7 linked regions of the Homo sapiens genome follow. The protein of the gene in region 2 purifies or fractionates together with the protein of the main gene of each other region. This does not show direct contact. Each region holds a gene or a part of one and is shown on either strand. Other genes may lie near its edges.

What was found.
Region 1: the proteins of GCFC2 (region 2) and SNRNP200 purify together in Homo sapiens (affinity purification with mass spectrometry; 4 studies listed by BioGRID and IntAct, with this or other methods). This does not show direct contact.
Region 3: the proteins of GCFC2 (region 2) and PRPF8 purify together in Homo sapiens (affinity purification with mass spectrometry; 3 studies listed by BioGRID and IntAct, with this or other methods). This does not show direct contact.
Region 4: the proteins of GCFC2 (region 2) and CSNK2A2 purify together in Homo sapiens (affinity purification with mass spectrometry; 3 studies listed by BioGRID and IntAct, with this or other methods). This does not show direct contact.
Region 5: the proteins of GCFC2 (region 2) and CSNK2A1 purify together in Homo sapiens (affinity purification with mass spectrometry; 3 studies listed by BioGRID and IntAct, with this or other methods). This does not show direct contact.
Region 6: the proteins of GCFC2 (region 2) and PRPF6 purify together in Homo sapiens (affinity purification with mass spectrometry; 3 studies listed by BioGRID and IntAct, with this or other methods). This does not show direct contact.
Region 7: the proteins of GCFC2 (region 2) and TMED10 purify together in Homo sapiens (co-immunoprecipitation; one large-scale study listed by IntAct). This does not show direct contact.

Annotation. Positions count from the first base shown.
Region 1 is NC_000002.12:96,292,047-96,295,546, forward strand, and holds part of SNRNP200 (U5 small nuclear ribonucleoprotein 200 kDa helicase), read right to left. Parts: coding exon 3,442-3,500; intron 1,464-3,441; coding exon 1,270-1,463; intron 1,050-1,269; coding exon 926-1,049; intron 1-925. UniProt on the Homo sapiens protein: Catalyzes the ATP-dependent unwinding of U4/U6 RNA duplices, an essential step in the assembly of a catalytically active spliceosome. Plays a role in pre-mRNA splicing as a core component of precatalytic, catalytic and postcatalytic spliceosomal complexes.
Region 2 is NC_000002.12:75,669,416-75,672,915, forward strand, and holds part of GCFC2 (intron Large complex component GCFC2), read right to left. Parts: exon of another isoform or gene 2,901-3,500; intron 2,602-2,900; coding exon 2,535-2,601; intron 870-2,534; coding exon 723-869; intron 1-722.
Region 3 is NC_000017.11:1,653,868-1,657,367, reverse strand, and holds part of PRPF8 (pre-mRNA-processing-splicing factor 8), read left to right. Parts: intron 1-606; coding exon 607-720; intron 721-802; coding exon 803-976; intron 977-1,824; coding exon 1,825-2,018; intron 2,019-3,351; coding exon 3,352-3,500. UniProt on the Homo sapiens protein: Plays a role in pre-mRNA splicing as core component of precatalytic, catalytic and postcatalytic spliceosomal complexes, both of the predominant U2-type spliceosome and the minor U12-type spliceosome.
Region 4 is NC_000016.10:58,157,407-58,160,106, forward strand, and holds the end of CSNK2A2 (casein kinase II subunit alpha'), read right to left. Parts: exon of another isoform or gene 948-2,700; 3' UTR 501-947; downstream 1-500.
Region 5 is NC_000020.11:484,791-488,290, forward strand, and holds part of CSNK2A1 (casein kinase II subunit alpha), read right to left. Parts: intron 2,786-3,500; coding exon 2,637-2,785; intron 1,673-2,636; coding exon 1,586-1,672; intron 1-1,585. UniProt on the Homo sapiens protein: Catalytic subunit of a constitutively active serine/threonine-protein kinase complex that phosphorylates a large number of substrates containing acidic residues C-terminal to the phosphorylated serine or threonine.
Region 6 is NC_000020.11:63,984,132-63,987,631, forward strand, and holds part of PRPF6 (pre-mRNA-processing factor 6), read left to right. Parts: intron 1-775; coding exon 776-894; intron 895-3,500. UniProt on the Homo sapiens protein: Involved in pre-mRNA splicing as component of the U4/U6-U5 tri-snRNP complex, one of the building blocks of the spliceosome.
Region 7 is NC_000014.9:75,166,613-75,170,112, forward strand, and holds part of TMED10 (transmembrane emp24 domain-containing protein 10 precursor), read right to left. Parts: intron 1-3,500. UniProt on the Homo sapiens protein: Cargo receptor involved in protein vesicular trafficking and quality control in the endoplasmic reticulum (ER) and Golgi.

The sequences.
Region 1 (3,500 bases), about 21 Mb from region 2:
GCCTAAACACGGCTGGAAAGACTTTTAAGGGAATGCACCCACCAAGTTCACAGTCCTGGAGCTGAGAAATTAAACCAACTTCAACATCCTATCTTGAACAGCAACTTTAAATAGACTACAACTACAAATTCGGGCCTCTCAACTCAGAATTTATGTTCAAGCACCTAACAAGAGTCAAAGCTGCATGAAAATGTGTCTGCAAAATAACAACTAAAACATTACACTACTTATAAAAGGATTTAGGAAATAAGTCTGAGACTAGTACACTGTTGTAGGGAATGAAGTCTTCCTAGTATTTAGTGCCAAGAAAAGATCTGTCTCTTCATATAAATTCATATGCTTCTTTTCATCAGACAAAAAGAAATACAAAACCAGTCACTTTTCCTTATTTTTTGTTAGTTAACATTGCTCAACTCGACTTTCAATTTAAAAATTCTATCACACTGTCTAGTAAAATGCCCTCTAGTTTTTCATTTTCCTCTTTTTATTGTCTTGCATTTTTAGTGTAAGTGACCCCAAATCTTTTATGGAGGGACCCTGGATAATGCGAATGCACAAAACAATTATCTGGGACTGGGGATTGCTTGCTGGGGGGATTTTTAATTCTCCAACTCTCTAATAGTTGTAGGGCTCTTCATGTTATCTATTTCATCTGGGCTGAGTTTTGCTAGTTAACTGGTAGTTGTTGGAGAACTGGTCCATTTCTTCTGAATTTTTAAAGTTATGAGCATAAAATTACTCATAGTATTCCCTTATTATCCTTCCAGTGGCTATAGGTTCTGTAGTAATATCCCATTTCATAGCTGATATTGGTGATTTATGTTGTGTCTTCTCTCTTTTAATTTCTGTCAATCTTCCCCAATTATTGGTGAATCAAACATTCGAAAGAATGGGGTTCAAGAGTAACCATAAACCACGGGCAAACCTGATTTTTTCCAGCATGTTCCATGATTTTTTCATAGACGATTTCATTCATGATCTGGAAACGCTTGATAGCTTTTTTCTCTGTGATACCCACATATGTCTGTTCCAGAGGCACTGGACGGAAGCTAGAAGTTCAACAGTTAGACAAATGAGGCTTTGGCAGAAAATACTGTGGGAATAAACAGTCTTTTTCACTGCCCCAAGAGCAATATTCCTCCTTTATGATTCACACCACATCAAAACCCAAAGGCCCTTCTAAAACCCAACCCAGTAGCACTCCTTGGAAAAGAGGAAAGAGAGCAGGATGGTCACCTTGGCAGAACTTTGCCCAGTCTTTCCTGATACCTGTTGTCAAAGTAAAAGAGACCCTTGGCAGGGTCAACACGTAGAAAGGTGGCTACATCTTCATAGTTGGGTAGGGTGGCACTGAGACCAATGAGTCGGACATCCTCTTGGGTCATCTCAATGTTTCGGATGGCCCTGGCCACTAAAGCTTCTAAGACAGGACCTCTGTCATCGTGGAGAAGATGAATCTCATCCTACGGAATTGGAGGACAGAAATTACCTCTAGCACTAGAGATACATAGTCCCTTTTCCTGGAATTGTCCCATATTGTAGGCATATAACCTAATATGCCTAAGAAAAAAGACAAGGGATCCCAAGCCACAGATGCCCAAAGGATGGAGACAATATTTCCCATGAAATACTCCAGAAAGTAACAGACTCTGACCATGAGTTGCTTTGGTACAGTTCAGTAACATACTTTGTATAAAGAAATTCTGAAACTCAGATAAATGAGTTTAAACTTTACTTAAAGGTAAACTTCTTTATGAAAAAGGATATAAATATGATCTGATCAGAAGCTTCACCTCTGGCAGTTATAGTTCCCAAGAACAAAAGCTATCACACATCAAATGATGAGTTTGAATAGTCTAAAGCAGTGCATCTCAAATTTTATTAAGTATCCCAAAGCCAGGGGATGTTGTTAAAAAGGAGATTGTATTCAGCAGGTGTGGGGTGAGGCCACAAATCCTGCATTTCTAACAAGCTCCTATTCCATGCTGCTGCTGCTATGACCCCAACCATGGATCAGGCTTCAAGTAGCAAAGCTCTAAAGCAGGGACCAGAAATGTTTTTTTTAAAAAGTCAGATGCTCCATCTCAAAAAAAAAAAAAAAAAAAAGCCGGGGGCAGTGGCTCACGCCTGTAATCCCAGCACTTTGGGAGGCTGAGGTAGGTGCATCACCCAAGGCCAGGAGTTCGAGACCAGCCTGGCCATCAGATTGGTGAAACCCCATTTCTACTAAAAATACAAAAAATTAGCTGGGCATGGTGGCGGGCAACTGTAATCCCAGCTACTCGGGAGACTGAGGCAGGAGAACTGCTTGAACCCGGGAGGCGGAGGCTGTAGTGAGCTGAGATTGCATCATCGCACTCCAGCCTGGGCAACAAGAGTGAAACTCCGTCTAAAAAAAAAAAGCCAGACAGTCAGTATTTCAGGCTTTGGCCCACGCAGCCCCTATTGCAAATACTCAGCTCTGCCATTGCAGCCAAAAGCAGCTGTAAACAATACATAAACAAATGGGTGTAACTATGTTCCAACAGAACAAAGCCAGTACCCACAGACTGCCAACCCCTGCTCCAGAACACTGAAAACCAACACGTGAAGTCTCCTTTCTTGCTTTTCCCAGACAACTTAAACTATACTCAGACTTAGTCACTAATCTCTGGAAGTTTCTGTGTATATGGAATACAATATCCTGCTTCCTCACTCATTCCCTCAGAGAATGGATTCTTTTACTTATAAAACCCTAAATGATGTTGGATATGATGGTTTTTTGTCTATCTGTTTACATTTGTTTCAAAATATTTCAGACATAGCTTCTTGGCCTTTTGGCTTAAGATCAAGTGTAGTAAAATATTTCAGACATAAAAAAATATATAAAGAATAACATGGCAGGCTAGGCGCAGTGGCTCACGCTTGTAATCCCAGAACTTTGGGAGGCTGAGGTGGGTAGATCACGAGGTCAGGAGTTCGAGACCAGCCTGGCCAACACAGTGAAACCCAGTCTCTACTAAAAATATAAAAATTAGCTGGGCATGGTGGCAGGCGCCTGTAATTCCAGCTACAGGGGAGGCTGAGGCAGGAGAATTGCTTGAACTCGGGAGGCAGAGGCTGCAGTGAGCCAAGATCGTGCCACTGTACTCAGCCTGGGCGACAGAGCTAGACTCCATCTCAAACAAACAAACAAACAAATAAATAAATAAATAAGATGGCAAACACAAGCTGACAATAGCTGTCATTATAATGTTTTGGATGGCCCTGGCCACCAAAGCTTCTAAGACAGGACCTCTGTCATCGTGGAGAAGATGGATCTCATCCTACGGAATTGGAGGACTAGTCATTACAAAGGCTAGTGCCTACAGAAAAGGCAGCAAAGAAACATTTCGCATGAAAACCCAGCAAACCCGCCCTGACACAACTGGACTCTATATTCTACGACTGCTCCCAACTCACCAGAATGATGAGCCGCACCAGCTGGGTGTAGGTGCGCTCACCACCCTTGCGGGTGATGA
Region 2 (3,500 bases):
TTTTCAAATTTATTACTTTTTCTCATAATTTCTTCTTTTGCCTTTAAGTTTAGAAGGAACTCCCTCACTCTCAAATATAGTCATTTACCATCTTAGTATATTTTATAGTTTCATTTTTACATTTTTTAAAATTTTACCTGAAATTTTTTTGGTGTATAGTGAGAGGTGAGGACTTAACATTCTTTTTGTAAACAGCCAGCCATCTAGCATCATTTATTAAGTAATTTTTCCTTTCCCTACTGGGGATATTTCAAACCAGTATACTCTTTCTTAAATACAGAAGAGCGGCTCTGCATTTTAGCTTTGTTAAATTCATTTGTCAATTTTTTTTTTTGAGATGGAGTTTTGCTCTTGTCACCCAGGCTGGAGTGCAATGGCGGCTCACTGCAACGTCTGCCTCCTGGGTTCAGGCGATTCTTCTGCCTCAGCCACCCAAGTAGCTGGGATTACAGGTGTTAGCCACCGCACCTGGCTAATTTTTGTATCTTTAGTAGAGACGGAGTTTCACCATGTTGGTGAGGCTGGTCTCAAACTCCTGACCTCACGCAATCCGCCTGCCTCAGCCTCCCAAAGTGCTGGGATTACAGGCATGAGCCACTGTGCCTGGCCCATTTGTCTATATATGAGTACCACACATTTAATTATTTTGCTAAATAATAGATTTTAATAGCTAAATTTTTTAGAAATGATAAAATTAGAATCAGTCTTCCTTCACAACTTACCTGGTTGCACTTTTTAACCACATCTGGCCCAGGTGTGGCATTGAGAAGTGCTATAATAAGGTAACGATTTAGCAGCTTCCCTAGTCCTAGTTCTTGCAAGGTGTCATCTGTAAGGAGTCCATTCCAAAGAAGAATATTGCGGAAGAGCTAAAATAAAATATCAAGTAAATATGTACCTTTTCTCCAAAGAGAAACTGTAATAGTCTCTAACAAACATGAAGAGTTGGTCAAACTAAAATTCTCACTACAATTAGCCCTGTTGGAACTGTCAATTTTAGAATACAATATCTCTGAATAAATACTTGATTCTTTCCAAACTCCATGTATTTGCTCATCTTATTTTCATTTTCTAGGATAACCATCCCCAAATCTATCTCAAATAACTTCACTAGAGCCTTTCCAGATCAATAATCTTCCTTCCCAATCCATTTTCTCTCAAAGCCGGGGGCCATCAAGTATAAGACCACAGGACCACGTGATTCATAAAGAACTACTGTCAAAACTAGGGCCGCCATTACCAACATGTGACCTTGAGAAGGCAATCAACGCTGAGAGCTTCATTCCTCTGATACATAAAGATTTATAATCACCTTTGAGTTTGAAGATAACTTGGATTAAGTAACCATAATAAATTCTAATAAAATATTGGTTGTCCTTTCCCTCTACTAAATTCAGATCTTTCTGTGAATTTTAAGGTGTTTCTTTTTTTGCAGTACTATATTCATTACTCTGAGTGCTGAACTACATGCTGTTTTACTAAAATGTAATGCTTTTTCACATTTTATCTCATTGTTGATGTTGTTCCCTCTTCCCAGAAAGCCTTTTCCCTGATTCAACCACATGACAAATATTAATTCACACTATTAAAACTACTCTTGGTGAGGTCACCTATATCCTTCTAATTGTCAAATCCAATAAACAGTGTTTCAGTCTTTCTCTTAATACTCTTTGGTGGCATTTAACACTCTTTTCTTCATTCTTGAAAATCTTTCATTTAGCTTCCTTGAGGCCATTCTCTTGTGATCATCCTAAGGCTCATAATTGATTCTACAGATTCCCTGAAGCCTCCATGTTCTCCTCTTCTGTTAGTATTTCCCGAGGTTCTGTCCTTGGCCTACTTCTCATGCTTCATCCAGTCTCCTTACGCAGCTTGCCATTCATGACCATGGCTCCAAATATTACCTACAGGTAGTGGACTCCCAAATCTCTAGCTCAGATCTGTCTCCTGAAATTCAGACTTATGTATCCAACCACCTCCTAGACCTCTGTATCTCTATTTGTCCCACATATATCTTCATTATGTACAAAATAGATCTTATCTTCCCTTGATCAGTTATCGACTCCTTTCAATGCTTCCTCCCAAACATTGTTTGAACCTTCTTCTCCTTCTCATCCCTACTGCCACTGACTTAGCAATAATTTTAAGGCCAGGGGTTAGCCAACTATATAGCTTGTGGGTTAAATCCATCCTGTTGCCTGTTTTTATAGGGTCCGTGAGCTAAGAATGGTTTTAACACTTTTCAAGGACGTTTTAAAACTGTCTTTAAACAAAATATTTTGTACCATGAGGAAATTATATGACATTCAAATTTCAGTGTTCATAAGTTTTATTCAAACAGCCATGTTCATTTGTTTATGTACTATGACTGTTTTTGTGCTACAGCGGCAGAGTTGAGTAATTCGACAGAGACCATGTGACCACAAAGCCTAAAATACTATCTAATTCTTATAGAAGAAGTTTGTTGTTCTTTGTTCTATAGTAAACAGGATTTTTACAAAAATTGCCTTTTCATTTTTGCAGTTTTTGCTCACCTTTAGGCCTGACCAGAACTGTCTTTCTTGGAACTTTGAATGAGGTGATGTTTTGTTTTCTACAGCACTAATTAGAAACAAACGAAAGAGAAGAGAAAATGCAAAGAACTATTAGTCTTTCAGAACCAGAGTTTAAGATCAGACTTTCTTTTAAACCAACCAAACTAAGCCTTAATGGAATATAAATAGAGATTGTTTATTTTATTTTATAAATAAAATATATATTTATTTATAAAATATATATTTATATATTTATAAATATGTTTATAAAATATATATTTATATATTTATAAATATGTTTATAAAATATATATTTATATATTTATAAATATGTTTATAAAATATATATTTATATATTTATAAATATGTTTATAAAATATATATTTATATATTTATAAATATGTTTATAAAATATATATTTATAAACAAATAACTAATATATCACATTCATACATCTGAACCATGTGAATGCATTATCTAAAACATTATAAACAAAGTTTACCAAGGCAGAATTTTTACATGTAGACATCTCATGATTCAAAATGAATCAGAAAGCTTTGAGGTTCCTTTCTTCCCCCTCCATAAAGCTCCTCCATCCTGTCACTACTCACTGGATTGCTACAGTTCATGCATCATTATAACTGATGGCTTCTTAGCAAAGTTATGATCATACATCAAATACTCGTTTTATAATTTAAAGTGACTGCAGAATTTACAGGTGCAGTTTCTCGTTCCTCAGCATTGTGCTTCCTCTGTGCTAGGCCCTGTTGTGTTCTGAGCATTCTCTTCATCTCCCTAATATCCTGTGAGGTAGGCACTAATTTTATCCTTATTTTATAGATGAGAAAACAAGTGCATAAAAATACCTACTAACAGTGGACGTGTGCTCTTTACCACTCTATATCACCTGCTATGTTCCTAGGATATATGTAAAACCAAAACCAAAACCAACCAAACAAAATTCAT
Region 3 (3,500 bases), on a different chromosome or scaffold from region 2:
GGCCCAGCAACGCATATTCTTGAAACATCCACTTTGACCAAATCTCTTCTCTACCTCACAACTCTTGCTGAATTAACTCTTCTTTAGCTTCCTAGACGTTCAACATCTGGCTGGGCTGTATCTGTCCAGCCAGTTTCTCTTCCTTTACATTTATAGCATGTTTCATCTTACATTCAGTCCAGGATCTTAGTAGCCCAAACCCCTGATGCTCATCTCCAAATCTGTGTTTTGCTTGTATTTTTCTTTCTAGAATGAACTCCCCTCTTTGCTCTGTTAATCACAGTCCCTCCTTAAGACACGTTTTTTTGTGCAGCTTTTTTCTGATCCTAGTAGCCTTAATTTCTTTTGTTCCTGAACTCTGTAAAACAGTGTATAGTTTAGCACATACTCATGTGTCAGCTTGTGGTATTGTCTTGTTGAAAGGGGCTGTCAGCCTGGTCATTGGACACGGCCATTTGATACTCTTTGTACCTTCTAAGTGCCTAACATTTAACATCAGTGTTCAATAGAAACGTAGTTGGATTATTTCAAAACTAGGATATTCTGTTCTAGTTGATCTGGGAGGGTAGAGACTAAATTTCCATTTTCTTCTCTCTTGCTTTTAAGTTGGCTAAGTGGAAGACAGCTGAGGAGGTGGCCGCCCTGATCCGATCTCTGCCTGTGGAGGAGCAGCCCAAGCAGATCATTGTCACCAGGAAGGGCATGCTGGACCCACTGGAGGTAAGAGGGTGGGGTGGGGTAGGAGAAAAGAGACCTTGAGACCTTCAGGCTGTTTCTCATCTTGGACTTGATCTTGTCTTAGGTGCACTTACTGGACTTCCCCAATATTGTCATCAAAGGATCGGAGCTCCAACTCCCTTTCCAGGCGTGTCTCAAGGTGGAAAAATTCGGGGATCTCATCCTTAAAGCCACTGAGCCCCAGATGGTTCTCTTCAACCTCTATGACGACTGGCTCAAGACTATTTCATCTTACACGGTATGAACCTCGGGAAGAGAAGATCGCTGGAGGAGGAGCGGGTTTAGGGTTAGGAGAAGATCCTGTGTCAGGTTTTTGCCATTTTCACATTTTTAGCCTATAGATTGGGTGGGAACTCTGTTGACTTTCATGAGAGTTTAAGACCTTAAAGTTAAAAATCAACTCTTGGGGCCGGGCGTGGTGGCTCACGCCCGTAATCCCAGCACTTTGGGAGGCTGAGTTGGGTGAATCACCTGAGGTCAGGAGTTTGAGATCAGGCTGGCCAACATGACGAGACCCCATCTCTACTAAAAATACAACAAAATTAGCCGAGTGTGCTGGGATGCACCTGTAGTCCCAGCTACTCGGGAGGCTGAGGCACCAGAATCACTGGAACCCAGGAGGCAGAGGTTGCAGTGAGCCGAGATGGCACCATTGCACTCCAGCCTGGGCGACAGAGTAAGACTGTCTAAAAAAAAAAAAAAAAAGGCCGGGCGCAGTGGCTCACGCCTGTAATCCCAGCACTTTGGGAGGCCGAGGCGGCGGATCACGAGGTCAGGAGATTGAGACCATCCTGGCTAACACAGTGAAACCCCATCTCTACTAAAAATACAAAAAATTAGCCGGGCGTGGTGGCAGGTGCCTGTCATCCCAGCTATTCGGGAGGCTGAGGCAGGAGAATGGTATGAACCTGGGAGGCGGAGCTTGCAGTGAGCCGAGATCATGCCACTGCACTCCAGCCTGGGCGACAGAGCAAGACTCTGTCTCAAAAGAAAAAAAAAAAATTCTTGGGTTTCATGAAAGGTTAGGATTAAAGTGGGAGAGCCTCAAGCAGCTGACCTACCCCACTCTTCCAAATCTTTTCCCAGGCCTTCTCCCGTCTCATCCTGATTCTGCGTGCCCTACATGTGAACAACGATCGGGCAAAAGTGATCCTGAAGCCAGACAAGACTACTATTACAGAACCACACCACATCTGGCCCACTCTGACTGACGAAGAATGGATCAAGGTCGAGGTGCAGCTCAAGGATCTGATCTTGGCTGACTACGGCAAGAAAAACAAGTGAGCAGTGCTGGTGGGGACACAGACAGGAGGTCTATATACGGTTTTCTGGGGTTTTTTGGAAGCACTTAGGCTTAGAAGTTTCTCAAGAAGGCCAGGCGCGGTGGCTCATGCCTGTAATCCCAGCACTTTGGGAGGCCAAGGTGGGTAGATCATTTGAGGTCAGGAGTTTGAAACCATCCTGGCCAACGTGGTGAAACTCCGTCTCTACTAAAAATACAAAAGTTAGCCGGGTGCGATGGCGCCTACCTGTAATCCCAGCTACTCGGGAGGCTGAGGCAGGAGAATTGCTTGAACCTGGGGGCAGAGGTTGCAGTGAGCCGAGATCATGCCACTGCACTCCAGCCTGGGCGACAAGAGTGAGACTGTCTCCAAAAAAAAAAAAAAAAAAGACGTTTCTCAAGAAATTATCTTGTCTTAGCCAGGCTTGAGTGCTCATGCTAGTAATACCAGCACTTTGGGAGGCCAAGGTGGGAGGATTGCATGAGCCAGGAGTTGAAACCAGCCTGATCAACAAGAGACTGACGCCATCTCTACCAAAAAAAAAAAATTTAAAACAGGTGTGGTGGTACACGCTTGTAGTCCCAGCTTCTTGGAGGCTGAGGCAGGAGGCTTGCTTGAGCCCGGGGGTTTGAGGCTGCAGTGAGCCATGATGATGCCACTGTACTCCAGCCTGGGTAACAGAGCGAGACTCTTGTCTTGAAAACAAGGAAAGAAATTATCTTACAGAGTCTCGAGGAAGAGAGATACAGCAGTGTCTTCGAATAGTATGGGAAGCATCCCTGTTTTAGGGCTTCAGTCTGACTCTTGGCCATTGTTTCTCACTGTTGCCATTTCAAACAGGGCATTTCTTTACTGTCCATACATGGGAAGAATTTTGAACATCCGAGACCCTAAGTATCCGAGACTGCTGCCAACACACACACACACCTTCCTCCCCTCGTCTCCCTCCCTGTCATCGTGGCAACCAAAATTATCCATAGGGTGACGGACAATACCACCTCTGATTAAGAACCAGTATTCTAGGGTTTCTGGGGTTTCCATTTCTGAGAACAGTTCCATGCCAGAGCATTGTTTTGGTCAAGGAAGCGTAGGGTTTATGGATGCTAAACAGTGGGAAGGTGCACACGCAGTGTGCTGTCCCGCTTGGATCTGACGAATCTTGGAAGTGTTAGTGCACCTCCGTTTCACACTTCCTGTAGAAGCAGCTCTTGTGGATTGTCTGGGGCGTGAGTATAGGCTGTCCTGTCCTACCAAGTTACACCCTTTCCATTGAGGCAGAAGTGACCAAGGGGAAGGGATCCTTGTAATATAACCCACACCATCCCCACAGTGTGAACGTGGCATCACTGACACAATCAGAAATTCGAGACATCATCCTGGGTATGGAGATCTCGGCACCGTCACAGCAGCGGCAGCAGATCGCTGAGATCGAGAAGCAGACCAAGGAACAATCGCAGCTGACGGCAACACAGACTCGCA
Region 4 (2,700 bases), on a different chromosome or scaffold from region 2:
CTGGTTCACTGTGTACCTCTTAACACCACTCAGCTCTGGAAGAGAGTCCTTACAAACGGGCCCTCCTTGGCTGAGTGTGGTGGCTCACACCTCTATGTAGACCCAGCACTTTAGGGGGACTAGGAAAGAGGATCACTTGAGTCAGGAGTTTGAGACCAGCCTGGGCCACGTGGCAAGACCATTTCTACAAAAAAAAAACTTAAGAAAACTTGTCAGGTGTGGTGGCATGCACCTGTAATCCCAGCTACTCAGGAGGCTGAAGCAGGAGGATCACTTGAGGCCAGGAGGCCGAGGCTGTAGTGAGCTATGGTTGCGCCACTGCACTCCAGCCTCCATGACAGAGCAAGACTGTTTAAAAACAAAAATGAAAACTGGCCCACCTTGTCCCAGGGACCTCCCCTGCTTCGTCTGGTTAGAACCTGGCACGAATGCGCTTTTGTCTCATCCTGAGTCACAGGCCTCAGTTCACGGCCCTTTCCATACTGAAAACTCTCCATACGTTTCTTTTAAAACCTTTTATTCAATAATATATACTTTTAAAATAATAATATGTAACTGCCGCCATGCCACATACTGCGCCCGTCCCCCCACTGTGGAGTCTGTGGTCAGCTAGTTAGCGTGGTTTGCTGGAAAAACAGGCGGCCACGGGACGAGTCGAGGGGCTCGGGGAGCAACAGTAACCAACAACATTCTGCATACCCTTCACATTCCCCATGCTTTCTGGGTCGGGAAGAAGTCAACAGGAAGCCAAAGGCAAGTGAGCCTTTTACATTCGGAAGTGAGGTTTGATATACGGTGGTGGGCTGCCCTTCGCTTGGTCTAGTTCGTGCTCGCCAAACCTGCCACCGTTTTGTGTCTGCTCACGGAACGTGATCTCTCTATACGCGTTAAGACGTTTGATTTGGTTCTTGTTCTGCTTATGGAAAAGTGGGAGAACCGCAACAGACCTGGGGAAAGAGACGGGAGGAGGGAAAGACGTCATTAATCAACCTGAGCGGGCGAGGGGAGGCCTCCACGTGTAGGAGGGCCTGTGCTAGAATGCAAGCTCGGCCCTCCCATGCCACTTGGTGGAGAACCCTGTGAGAACTCGCTGAGTTCAGGTTTCCAACAGTACCCTCTGCCTTCCTCTTCTGATTATCATGACAGAGATGGTCTCTAGCACGGCCTTCTGTCACAGGACGGGTGCTCTGGGCACCACGTGTGTTGTGACCAGGTCTTCCACTCTACCCCATCCCTCGGGTCCAGGGTGCTGATGGAGAAGCCTCAGAGCCTCTTGACCATTCTGTGCCAGTCAAGCTACAAATTCAGCAGTCAGCTCTAGGTCCCCCTCAGACCTGACCTGATTATCTGAGGTGTCTTAGGACTAAGACGGGGTCTGTATTTACTCAGAAAAAGGGCTGAGTCCACTAATAAACAAAGAGCAGTAAGTGAGCTCAAATATTTTTAACTCTCCCCTGGAAACAGCTAGCTGCCTGGCATGGCCTGAAAACCTCATTTCTCCTTCCAGGTCCAGCATAGCAAGTGGGTGGTGAGATGCCGGCAGTGGAATTCTAGAAGCAGTGCCTCCCAGAACAGCACTACAGTACTGAGGAAGGACTATGCACCTGGGAAGCTGTCACACACACAAAATCATTTCATGAAAACTTTCTTTGGGTAAAGGAAGGGTTCCACTGCGTAGTATTTGATTTGAGAAGGGCTGCATGGTGCATGAGGTTAAGAAAGAAATGACTATATTTGCCTTTAAACACTTCAGCTGATTCCAAGCACCCAACTTCAGAGGCTCAGTGAGAAGAAAGCACACTAATTAAAGAAAGCACATTAATTAAAGATACCACCACCTGCCAAATAATAGCATGTGCTGCAAGGAATGGGGCTAGGGAGAGTGTTTCACAAATGCAGAGCACCAGGCCACAAGGTTAAAGTCATGCACTAAAACAGTCAATCCCAAGAGGCAGGTGTCTGAGTGGCGCGACTCAGAAGCAAGTACATAAAAACGGAACACTCCCAACAGGACACCACTCTAGCCCCACTTCTGCCAAAGGAAAGTTTTCACATCAAGGTGTAACACACATCTTTGCAATTCAAGGTTTATCCCTCCCCTCTCCCCCAAAGAGACAGGAAATACAAGTTAAGGTCCTCATAGCAATGGTTTGTCTCCCACTTGGGAAGGCTGGTTATTGTCAACATTTTTATTTAAGAAAACAGGATTTAACATGGCATTTTTCTTCCCTCTAAGGGCAGCAGCACATAAATCATACATCAGTCATCCAGTGATACAAAGAGGTGGCCAATTGTGTCTGAAGTAGTCACTTGTAAAGGATCACAACCCAGGCAGTGTTGCTTTTCTGCAAACAGAAGGAAACAGAAGGCTCCATGGTCCTTGAAGATTATCCAAGTTTTCCACTAGTTGTCAAGATTTCTGTCCCAACCTCTTAGTCACCATTTACAGCAAGAAGAGCCAGCAAGTGAAAAACTGTTAATTTATTGATTCAAAGTTGTTTTTTTTCTTTTTAAAAAACAATCCCCAATACATGCAGTTCAGGGTTAAGTATCACATTTGTAGCACATTGTTGAGTCTCAAAACAAAAATATGCATCACCTGTATAATCCCATCACATCTTTTTCCAGCCTCTACAATACCTAGTTGGGGGTGTTTTCATTTATACATCCACATAGCTCAGAAGCATGTTATTAACGGTT
Region 5 (3,500 bases), on a different chromosome or scaffold from region 2:
GTGCAGTGTCTCACGCCTGTAATGCCAGCACTTTGGGAGGCCAAGTTGGGCGGATCACCTGAGGTCAGGAGTTCAAGACCAGCCTGGCCAACATGGTGAAACCCCATCTCTACTAAAAATACAAAAATTAGCTGGGCGTCATGGCGGGCGCCTGTAGTCCCAGCTACCTGGGAGGTTGAGGTGGGAGAATCGCTTGAACCCGGGAGGCGGAGGCTGCAGCAGCTGAGATTGTGCCACTGCACTCCAGCCTTGGCCACAGAGCAAGACCTTGTCTCCAAAAAAAAAAAAAAAAAAAAAAAAAAAAAAAAAAAAAAAAAAAATATATATATATATATATATATATATATGAGAACATTATTATACATTCTTCTCCACTCCTCTTAGACATGGCTCTGCATCTCACTTTTTCTTTTGAGACAGAGTCTCACTCTCACCCAGGCTGGAGGGCAACGGTGCGATCTCGGCTCACTGCAACCTCTGCCTCCCAAGTTCAAGCGATTATCTTGCCTTAGCCTCCAAGTAGCTGGGATTAAAGGCGCCGCCGCCACGCCCAGCTAATTTTTTGTATTTCCAGTAGAGACAGGGTTTCGCCATGCTGGCCAGGCTGGTCTCGAACTCCTGACCTCAAGTGACCCACCCGCCTCAGCCTCCCAAAGTGCTGGGATTACAGGCATGAGCCACTGCACCTGGCCCTGCATCTTGCGTTTTAAATTTCACATTATTATATTGGAGTTGGAGATCTAACAGAACATGAAACTCTTATTCTACTGGCTGCACCACATTCCATTAAATGGATATACCATAACTGATTTAACCAGTTTCCTACTGATAGCTATTCTCAATGTTTTGTTATTACAAATAAGGCTACAAGTAAGTTTGGATATACATTACTCTGTACAGAGGTAGGATACTCAAGGGGTAAATTCTAGAAGGCAGTTAGTTCTTTTCTTAAAAAAGAGGAGGGCAACAGCAATTATTTGAGGATATGTAAGTAAATGCCTTCACTACCAGATATGCACCCACTTGGATGTTGCCTATATGTATAATTCTTATGCTATGTGCCTGTAGTTCCTTTGGAATAACTGGGTACTCTATAAAAATTCACTGTGCGTCACAATGATCCAATAATGGAAAACCATTTTACTTATGTTTTTACAACTGATAGGCACTCTATAGTTGCTCTGGCACATGTCACGGAACTGTCCTTGTACACATACACACCTATGTATAAACCCCACCTCTATACCCCATTTCTTAACATTGTTTCTAAGGGCCATGTAACTACTGTCATTTCAAACTATAAGATGAAATGGTGTATTTTTCCTTTTCATGGCTTGGCACTTTCAAGCCCCTATGCCAAAAATTTTCAGCCAGGAATGCTGAGATTCTAGCCTAGAAGGGGATACCCTACTCAAGACAGTATCACTAAAGTATACCAAATGTCAAGCATGCTGAAACCTGGTTAAAAAAAAGTCACAAGGCCACCAGTACGGAGAAGAGAAGGTATACAAGAAATCAGACCACAAAGCTAAGAACAGTAATTGACTTCCACATTTTTTTAAAGAAAATTTACCAATGAACTGACCTGACATCATATTGGCGCTGCTGACGGGCGTACTGCCCCCTGGCATGCTAGATGAACCCATTCGAGCCTGGTCCTTCACAACAGTGTCTAGAAAAGAGACAAAAAGGCTAGGTTCTGTTTTGCTTGAAAGATTAAACTAATGGTCTGGAAGCCTGAAAGCAGCCAGCTTCATTCTTTGCAATTTATATATACTCTACATTATTCCCCAAAGAACTTAAGGTGGCAATTGCCTTCACCATGAATTAGACAAGTGGTAAAAAGCAGAAATAGCTTTCCTATCAAACTGTGGTAAAAGCTAACCTTTCAATCAAATGGTAGAAAGATGAGGTAATTATTTATAGCAGAGCGAATTTAATGAAGCCCTGGTCCTGTTGAGGTTTAATGGAGACAAGACACTGTAACTCGGCAAAGACGGTAATATATTACCAGTGTGTCCACAGCCCAGTACCAAGTAGGCCAAAGCTATAGGTCCATGTAGCTTAGGGCTATGACCACATTCTCTATCCCAATCAGCCTATCTATCTGCTTCAGGTATTGGGCAAAAGTATAAATGATTCAGTACAAAACCATCACACCGAAGGAAAAATGTCATGTTGCAGCTAACATCACAGTGCAGATGGGGTGGGTCTCAGTGGTATTTTCACTTAGGATGGCACAGGTGGCTATACTCACAAATCTAAGTCAAGGTGTTCATACAATTTTAAGATTTGTAAGCCTCATTAGCTCTTTCCAACGAATGATTACTAGGGACAGGAAAGATACAGGGCTGTGTATTCTAATTCAACCATTCCAGACTGAGGCACTGAGAAGTGTCATCCTCACAGTATGAAAAGAGTTTATTTAGGAATGCTCTTGTGTCATGTATTCTGTTACAGAAGAATTCTTCCAGTAATTCTGCAATGTAGTTGCCATCACTATCCCCACTGGAAGAATCTGAGGCTCAGTGTGGGTGAATTAACTTTGCAGCAAGCTGACAGGAGCTGGGATTACGACTCTGTTCTATAGGACTCTGCGCCTGCACAAACTCTGTGGGCTAGATATCTGGACTCACAGAAATAGGGGTGCTCCATTGCCTCTCTTGCAGTAAGCCGTGACTGGTGGTCATATCGCAGCAGTTTGTCCAGGAAATCCAAGGCCTCAGGGCTGACAAGGTGCTGATTTTCACTGTGGACAAAGCGTTCCCATCGCTTTCGAGAGTGTCTGCAGGACCAAAAGAGGGCATGAGAAATGGGCCACGTGGGCACAGAAGCCCAACATTTCATTCCTACATTTTTCTTAGTGGCTAACAGCCCAGACAAAAGCAAAGAGGGATCCAAACTCAAGAGGGTAGTCTTGCACCGCTCTGCCACTGAGTGGGACAACAAAGCTAACTGGAGACTGGAAACAACATAGCTAGAGTGAAAAAAGACATCTGAGTCCTCTCAATTTTAAGAAACATAATTCAGGTTACTTGACAGGACGTGACCGCTTCTGTGTAGCAAGGAGGGTCAGGTGGCTGAGCTCACCAGGCCTATTTCCCATCCCCACACATATTCCTGGCATCTCTGCCAATTGGCCAGCAAAAGCCTTTGCATCAGGAAAGTCCATCTCCTCCTGTTGAGTGGTTAAGTGTATAAGTACTATATCTAGTCACTACTGTTAAGAGTCGGTTGTCTGCATATAGCCTTTTTTTTTTTTTTTTTGGAGACAGGGTCTCACTCTGTTGCCCAGACTGGAGCGCAGCCACATGTTCATTGCTCTCTGTAGCATTCCCTCCTGGGCTCAAGGGAAGCTCCTGCCTCAGCTTCCTAGTAGTCTGGACTACTGCCACACATCACCATGCATGGAGTCGAGGGTCTCATTATGTTGTCCAGGCTGGTCTCCAACTCCTGGGCTCAAGTGATCCTCCTAAAGTTCTGGGATTACAGATATGAGC
Region 6 (3,500 bases), on a different chromosome or scaffold from region 2:
GTTTTGAGGCCAGGTGCGGTAGCTCACACCTATAATCCTGGCACTTTTGGAGGCCGAGGTGGGCGGATCATGAGGCCAGGATATCGAGACCATCCTGTTTAACATGGTGAAACCCCGTCTCTACTAAAACTACACAAAAATTAGCCGGGCATGGTGGCATGTGCCTGTAGTCCCAGCTACTCGGGAGGCTGAGGCAGAAGAATGCTGTGAACCCGGGAGGCGGAGGTTGCGGTGAGCCAAGATTGCGCCACTGCACTCCAGCCTTGGCGAGAGTGCGAGACTCTGTCTCAGAAAAAAAAAAAAAATTAGTTTTGAAATAATTTTAAATTTGCAGGAATTTGCAAAAATAGTGCCCCCCCAAAAAAAAGTTTCTGCATGTCTTTCACCAAGCTTCTCCCGATGTTACATGACCTTAGTGCAGTTATTGAAACGAAGGAGTTAACATTGACACAGTACTATTAACTAATTTGTCAGTCGTATTTGCATTTCATGTTTTTCCATGAATGTCCGCTTTCTGGCTTAGGCTTAGTCCAGGATCCCCCATTGCATTTCGTCATGTCTCCTTGGTCCCTTCCAATTGGGGGTCTCCTCTGTCTTCCATGCCCTTGACGCTTGAAGAGTAGTCACCAGTTATATGGTAGACTGTCCCTTGATTTGGCTTCGTTGGCTGAAGAAAATAATTTAGCAAGTATTTCACAAGTAGAGATCTCCGTTTCGCTGGTGGGGATGGTGTTGAAGGAAAAGCTGACCTCTACACGTGTTGTTTGCTTCTCAGTTTAATGGCTATGCTGGGAGCCTCTTCTCAAGTGGACCCTACGAGAAAGATGATGAGGAAGCAGATGCTATCTATGCAGCCCTGGATAAAAGGATGGATGAAAGAAGAAAAGAAAGACGGTAAAAGAAATTGTTGCCTTTCACAATATTTATCCAAGTTTAAAAAAAAGTTTTGTGGCCAGGCGCAGTGGCTCACGTGTGTAATCCTAGCACTTTGAGAGGCTGAGGTAGGACGATAGCTAGAGCCCAGGGGTTTGAGACCAGTGTGGGCAACGTAGGGAGACTTAATCTCTACAAATAATTTAAAAATTAGCCAGATGGTACACACCTGTAGTCCCAGCTACTTGGGTGGCTGAGGTGGAAGGACCGTTTAAGCCCAGGAGGTAGAAACTGCAGTGAGCCATGATCATTCCAGCCTGGTTGGCATAGTGAGACCCTGTCTCAAAAAAAAAAAAAAGTTTTGTTTTGAATTGTTTTATATTTGGAGAAAAGTTGCAATAGAGTATGTGTGTCTGCTTAGCTTTTAGGCCACCTGAGGGTCTTGGTCTGTCGTAGCCATGCCTGGATAAGCACTGGGCTGTTACAGAACAGCCTTAGGGCCTGGGGGCTGCAGTGGAGAGCTTAAGAACTCTTAAGTTTTTCCAGAAATCAGCAGAATTTTGTGGATTACTTTTACGATACATCAGGGTTACCATCTTTGAAATGAAAAGGGCCTACTGACTTGATTATTATATGTTGAGTAATTTGCAAATGAATTAAAGATGTTAAATGACACATACAAGCTACCAAGATTGAACCATGAAGAAATCCCAAACCTGAACAGACCAATAAAAGGTAATGAGATCAAAGCTGTAACAGAAAGTGTCCTAGCAGAGAACATCTCAGGATCTGATTGCTTCATTGCTGAATTTTACCAAATATTTGAAGAAGAACTAATACCAATTCTACTCAGACTATTCTGAAAAATAGAGGAGGGAATACTTCCAAACTTATTCTACAGAACCAGTATTACCCTGATACCAAAACCAGACAAAGACACACTGAAAAAAGAAAATGTTAGGTCAGTATCCCTGATGAACACTGATGCAGAAATCAGCAGAATACTAGCAAACCATATTCAACAACACATTAGAAAGATGGTTCATCGGCTGGGCGCAGTGGATCACGCCTGTAATTCTAGCACTTTGGGAGGCCGAGGTGGGCGGATGATGGGTCATCTGAGGTCAGGAGTTCAAGACCAGTCTGGCCAACCTAGTGAAACCCAGTCTCTACTAAAAATACAAAAATTAGCCGGGCATGGTGGGTGGTGTACGCCTATAATCCCAGCTACTTGGGAGGCTGAGGCAAGAGAATCGCTTGAACTCGGGAGGTGGAGGTTGCAGTGAGCCGAGGTCACAACACTGCACTCTAGCCTGGGAGACAAGAGCAAGACTCCATCTCAAAAAAAAAAAAAAAAAAAGATCGTTCATCATGACCAAGTGGCATTTTGCCCAGGGGATACAAGTGCAAGGGTGGTTCAACATATGCAAATTAATCAGTGTTATACATCATATCAACAGAATGAAGGACAAAAACCATATGATCTTTTTTTTTTTTTTTTTGAGACGGAGTCTCGCTCTGTTGCCCAGGCTGGAGTGCAGTGGCGCAATCTCAGCTCACTGCAACCTCCACCTCCTGGGTTCAAGTGATTCTCCTGCCTCAGCCTCCTGAGTAGCTGGGACTACAGTTGCCCGCCACCACGCCTGGCTAATTTTTTGTATTTTTAGTAGAGACGGGATTTCACTGTGTTAGCCAGGATGGTCTTGATCTCCTGACCTCATGATCCACCTGCCTCGGCCTCCCAAAGTGCTGGGATTACAGGCGTGAGCCACTGCGCCCGGCCTAATCATTTTAATTGATTCTGAAAATGCATTTGATAAGATTCAACATTCCTTGATGATAAAAACTCTCAAAAAACTGCATATAGAAGAAACATACCTCAGGCTGGGTGTGGTGGCTCACGTCTGTAATCCCAGCACTTTGGGAGGCTGAGGCGGGAGGACTGCTTGATCTCAGGAGTTTGAGACCAGCCTAGGCAAGAGGGTAATACCTTTTCTTTACAAAAAAATACAAAAATTAGCCAGGCTTCGTGGCACACACCTGTAGTCCTAGCTACTCAGGAGGCTGAGATGGGAGAATTACTTGAGCCCAGGAGGCAGAGGTTGCAGTGAGCTGAGATCATACCACCACACTTCAGCCTGGGCCACAGAGCGAGACCCTGTCTCAAAAAAAAAAAAAAAAAAAAGGGGGGGGGAGCATAACACAATAAAAGCTATATACAGCTGGATGGGGTGGTTCACGCCTGTAATCACAGCCCTTTGGGAGGCCCAGGCAGGCAGATCATTTGAGGTCAGGAGTTTGAGACCATCCTGACCAACATGGTAAAACCCTGTCTCTACTAAAAATCCAAAGATTAGTTGGGTGTGGTGGCTCAGGCCTATAATTTCAGCTACTCAGGAGGTGGAGGTTACAGTGAGCTGAGATTGTGCCACTGCACTCCAGCCTGGGCAACACAATGAGACTGTGTCGCAAAGAAAAAAAAAAGCCACATATGGTAGGCCCACAGCTCGTATCATACTGAATGGGGAAAAACTGGAACGCAACAAGGATGCCCACTTTCACCACTGTGATTCAACATTGTACTGGAAGTCCTAGCTAGAGCAGTCGGACCAGAGAAATAAATAAAA
Region 7 (3,500 bases), on a different chromosome or scaffold from region 2:
AGATTTAAATGAAGCAATGTATCCTTTAACTTTTATGGAGAAGGACGCAAAGGTCAAGTTATAATTAAAAGCTAGGAACTTTGTATATAATACAAAAAGAAATTCGATTTATATTATTAAATGTCAATGTACCAATTAGCCTTCTGTACTGAACCATCTATTTATTGACCTGTTTCTAACCCAGTGAACAACAGTCACGTTAAATTCACGCTGAAAGGGCCATATTTCTCCCTACAGAAAAAGTCTGGCATAAGTAAGGGTTCATGGGATCGTTATTGATAAAAAGGATGGTTCATTTCGATGACTGAGCAACATGCATCCTATTCCTTTTTTTTTTTTTTTTTTTTGAGACGGAGTCTCACTCTGTCGCCCAGGCTGGAGTGCAGTGGCGTGATCTCGGCTCACTGCAACCTCCACTTCCCAGGTTCAAGCGATTCTCCTGCCTCAGCCTCCTGAGTAGCTGGGACCACAGGTGCACACTACCACGCCTGGCTAATTTTTGTATTTTCAGTAGAGACAGGGTTTCACCATGTTGGCCAGGATGGTCTCATTCTCCTGACCTCGTGATCCACCCACCTCAGCTTCCCAAAGTGCTGGGATTACAGGCGTGAGCCACCACGCCCAGCCGAAGCATCCTATTCTTTCTCCTTGTCAGCACAGAACAGACCTCAGTACAGATACCAGTAATAAAAAAGCTGAAATACAGTAATTCCAAACAAAATAATCTGAAAACTATAGCATATATACCATCTTTTCCTTCCTTCCTCCCTCCCCTGCCTCTTCGCCCCTCTGCCTCTCTCTCTTTTCTCCTCCTCGCCCCCACCCCCACCACTGTCCTTTTCTCCTTCCTCCTCCCTCTCCTCTCTGTCCTCATGCCTGGCCTATAGTATCTTCTCATACAGCTTTGGGTGAGGGAAAAAAGAAGTTATAAGCCAATAGTTTCCCAACTGCCAAGTTACTTCTTCATAATTTTTAGGCTTAAGTTGTGGTAGGCCTGTGATTCAAGGCTGAACTCTTTAAGGGATCTGTTTGGCTTTCTTATCTATAAGCTAGTTGGGAAGGACAGAAATCATAACTTGGTATAAGATCCAAATTTTCAGCCAGGTGCAGGGGTTCATGCCTGTAATCTCAGTGCTGTGGGAGGATCACTTGAGGCCAGGAGTTCGAGGTTGCAGCGAGCTATGATCATGCCACTGCACTCCAGCCAGAGCAAAATAATAATAAAAATATTACCCAAATTTCTGAGTCCCTACAACAGGCTTTTATTATGGACCTGAAGTAATGGAGGAAACTTCTATATTCACTGTAAATGACGAGTTGATACTTCCTGCTTCAATTATGTGCAGCAAAGTCTTTATACCTGACACTAGTTAGCCTGATTTAGCCTCACTTTATGAAATGAGTAGGGAAGTATGGAATAGACTCAGTTTGGAGATCTTAACACAAAATGCATCTCAATATAGGTCTGAAATAGAAATCTTTGCAGGAGAGGACCACCCATCATTTCAATCCATTTATCTCTCTCTGCTTCAGAAAGGCCTCCCCTGACCACTCAAACACCCTTTAACCCATCAGTCACCCCCTACTCCCTAGTGCCTGAACTTTCATTATAGTGCTTATCACTACCTGAAATTCTATTATTTTAACTTGTTTTTTGTCTTTGTTCCCCACAAGAGCTTGAGGACCTTGTCCCGTTTATCCCCATATTCTCAGCCAGGTCTGACACATACTAAATATTACATAAATATTTGTTGAATGAATGAAAGAATCACAAACTACTCATAATTCCTCTCATTAAAATACTCCATATCTACTTATTTCAATGACATATAGCATGAGGGGCTCTGAGAAGCAATTCAATTTTCATTCAATACAGAGGAAAGAAAAGAGTACTAACATCTATGGAGCACCATAATGGGCCCTGCACAATAAAAACCTCACCCATCTCAATCAGTCCTTCTAACAAGTTTATGAGCTCTACGATTCCCATATTACAGAAACAGGACCAGAGAAGAAGGGTTAAGTAATCCCTGCAAGACCCACATAACCTTTAAATGGTGGAGCTGCTGGGATCTGAACCAAATCTATCTTACTTCAGATCTAGTCTCTACCATACCACAAGGCTTCTCAAGAAGACTAAGATGTTTAACTCAGTTATACAACAATGTGTACGTTAAACTAAAGACACAAAGATGAGTAAGACATTAAAGAGTTCACAAAGTAAACACTACACTACATGAAAAGTGCCATGTAAAACAGGATGTAATGGTACTACAGTATCTTTTCATACAACTTTTGGTGAGGGGGAAAAAAGAAGTTATAAGCCAATGGGACACATAGGGGACACAGAAAGTCAAACATTGATCCAGGTAAAGAGAACATTATATTCAAAGAACTGTAAGGTGTTCAGTATAGCTAGAGTCAGAGTGGGAGGAAGCAAATAAAGAGAATGGAAGAGGGAAAGATCAGAGATGAGGCAAAGACAGTGCTTGCTCGTCTGTTCACTAATTCCTTAGGATAAGGTCCTACTATGTGCCAGGCCTTATTTTAGACAAGCATTGCAATGATGAATGAAACCTAGTCTCTGTTCAAGCAGCTTATAGTTTATCCCAGGAGATGGGCAAATACACAACTGCAACACAGAGTGGTATATGATAACATAGGTGCATTCACTGGATACTGAGATGTTCCTAGACAGAAAGAAGGTGAATCAGTCAGATTAACCAAGGCACTATATTCACAGAGACCCTTATAAGAAAGACTGCCTCAGGCTAGGCACAGTGGCTCACGCCTGTAATCCCAGCACTTTGGGAGACGGGCGGATCACCTGAGGTCAGGAGTTTGAGACCAACCTGGACAATATTGTGAAACCCCGTCTCTACTAAAAATACAAAAATTAGCCGGGAGTAGTGGTACGCGCCTATAATCCCAGCTACTTGGGAGGCTGAGGCAGGAGAATTGCTTGAACCTGGGAGGCAGAGGTTGCAGTGAGCCGAGATCATGCCATTGCACTCCAGCCTGGGCAAAAAGAGCGCAACTCCATCTCAAAAAAAAGACTGCCTCATTCAGCACAACCACCAAATGCTAAGCTCAGCTGGCCAGGTTCTGCACCAGTCTCCAGTTCTCCTCCTACCTCAAATCAAACCACAGCTGCCTAAAGCAGGGGTGGAAATATGACCAAAGACAAGACAATCCATTGGCTGAACTGAGACCTAGAATGTGGCCTACCATATGAAAAGGAGCTCTGGCACTTAGGAGTTGCACTCCAGAAGCTAAAATGATGCATAGGGAGAATCCTTGAAGCAGTCGTCAAAATATAAGAAAAAGTGGAACGGCCGGGCGTGGTGGCTCATGCCTGTAATCCCAGCACTTTGGGAGGCAGAGGCGGGCGGATCATGAGGTCAGGGGATTGAGACCATCCTGGCTAACACGGTGAAATACAAAAAATACAAAAAATACAAAAAATTAGCCGGGCGTGGTGGCGGGCGCCTGTAGTCCCA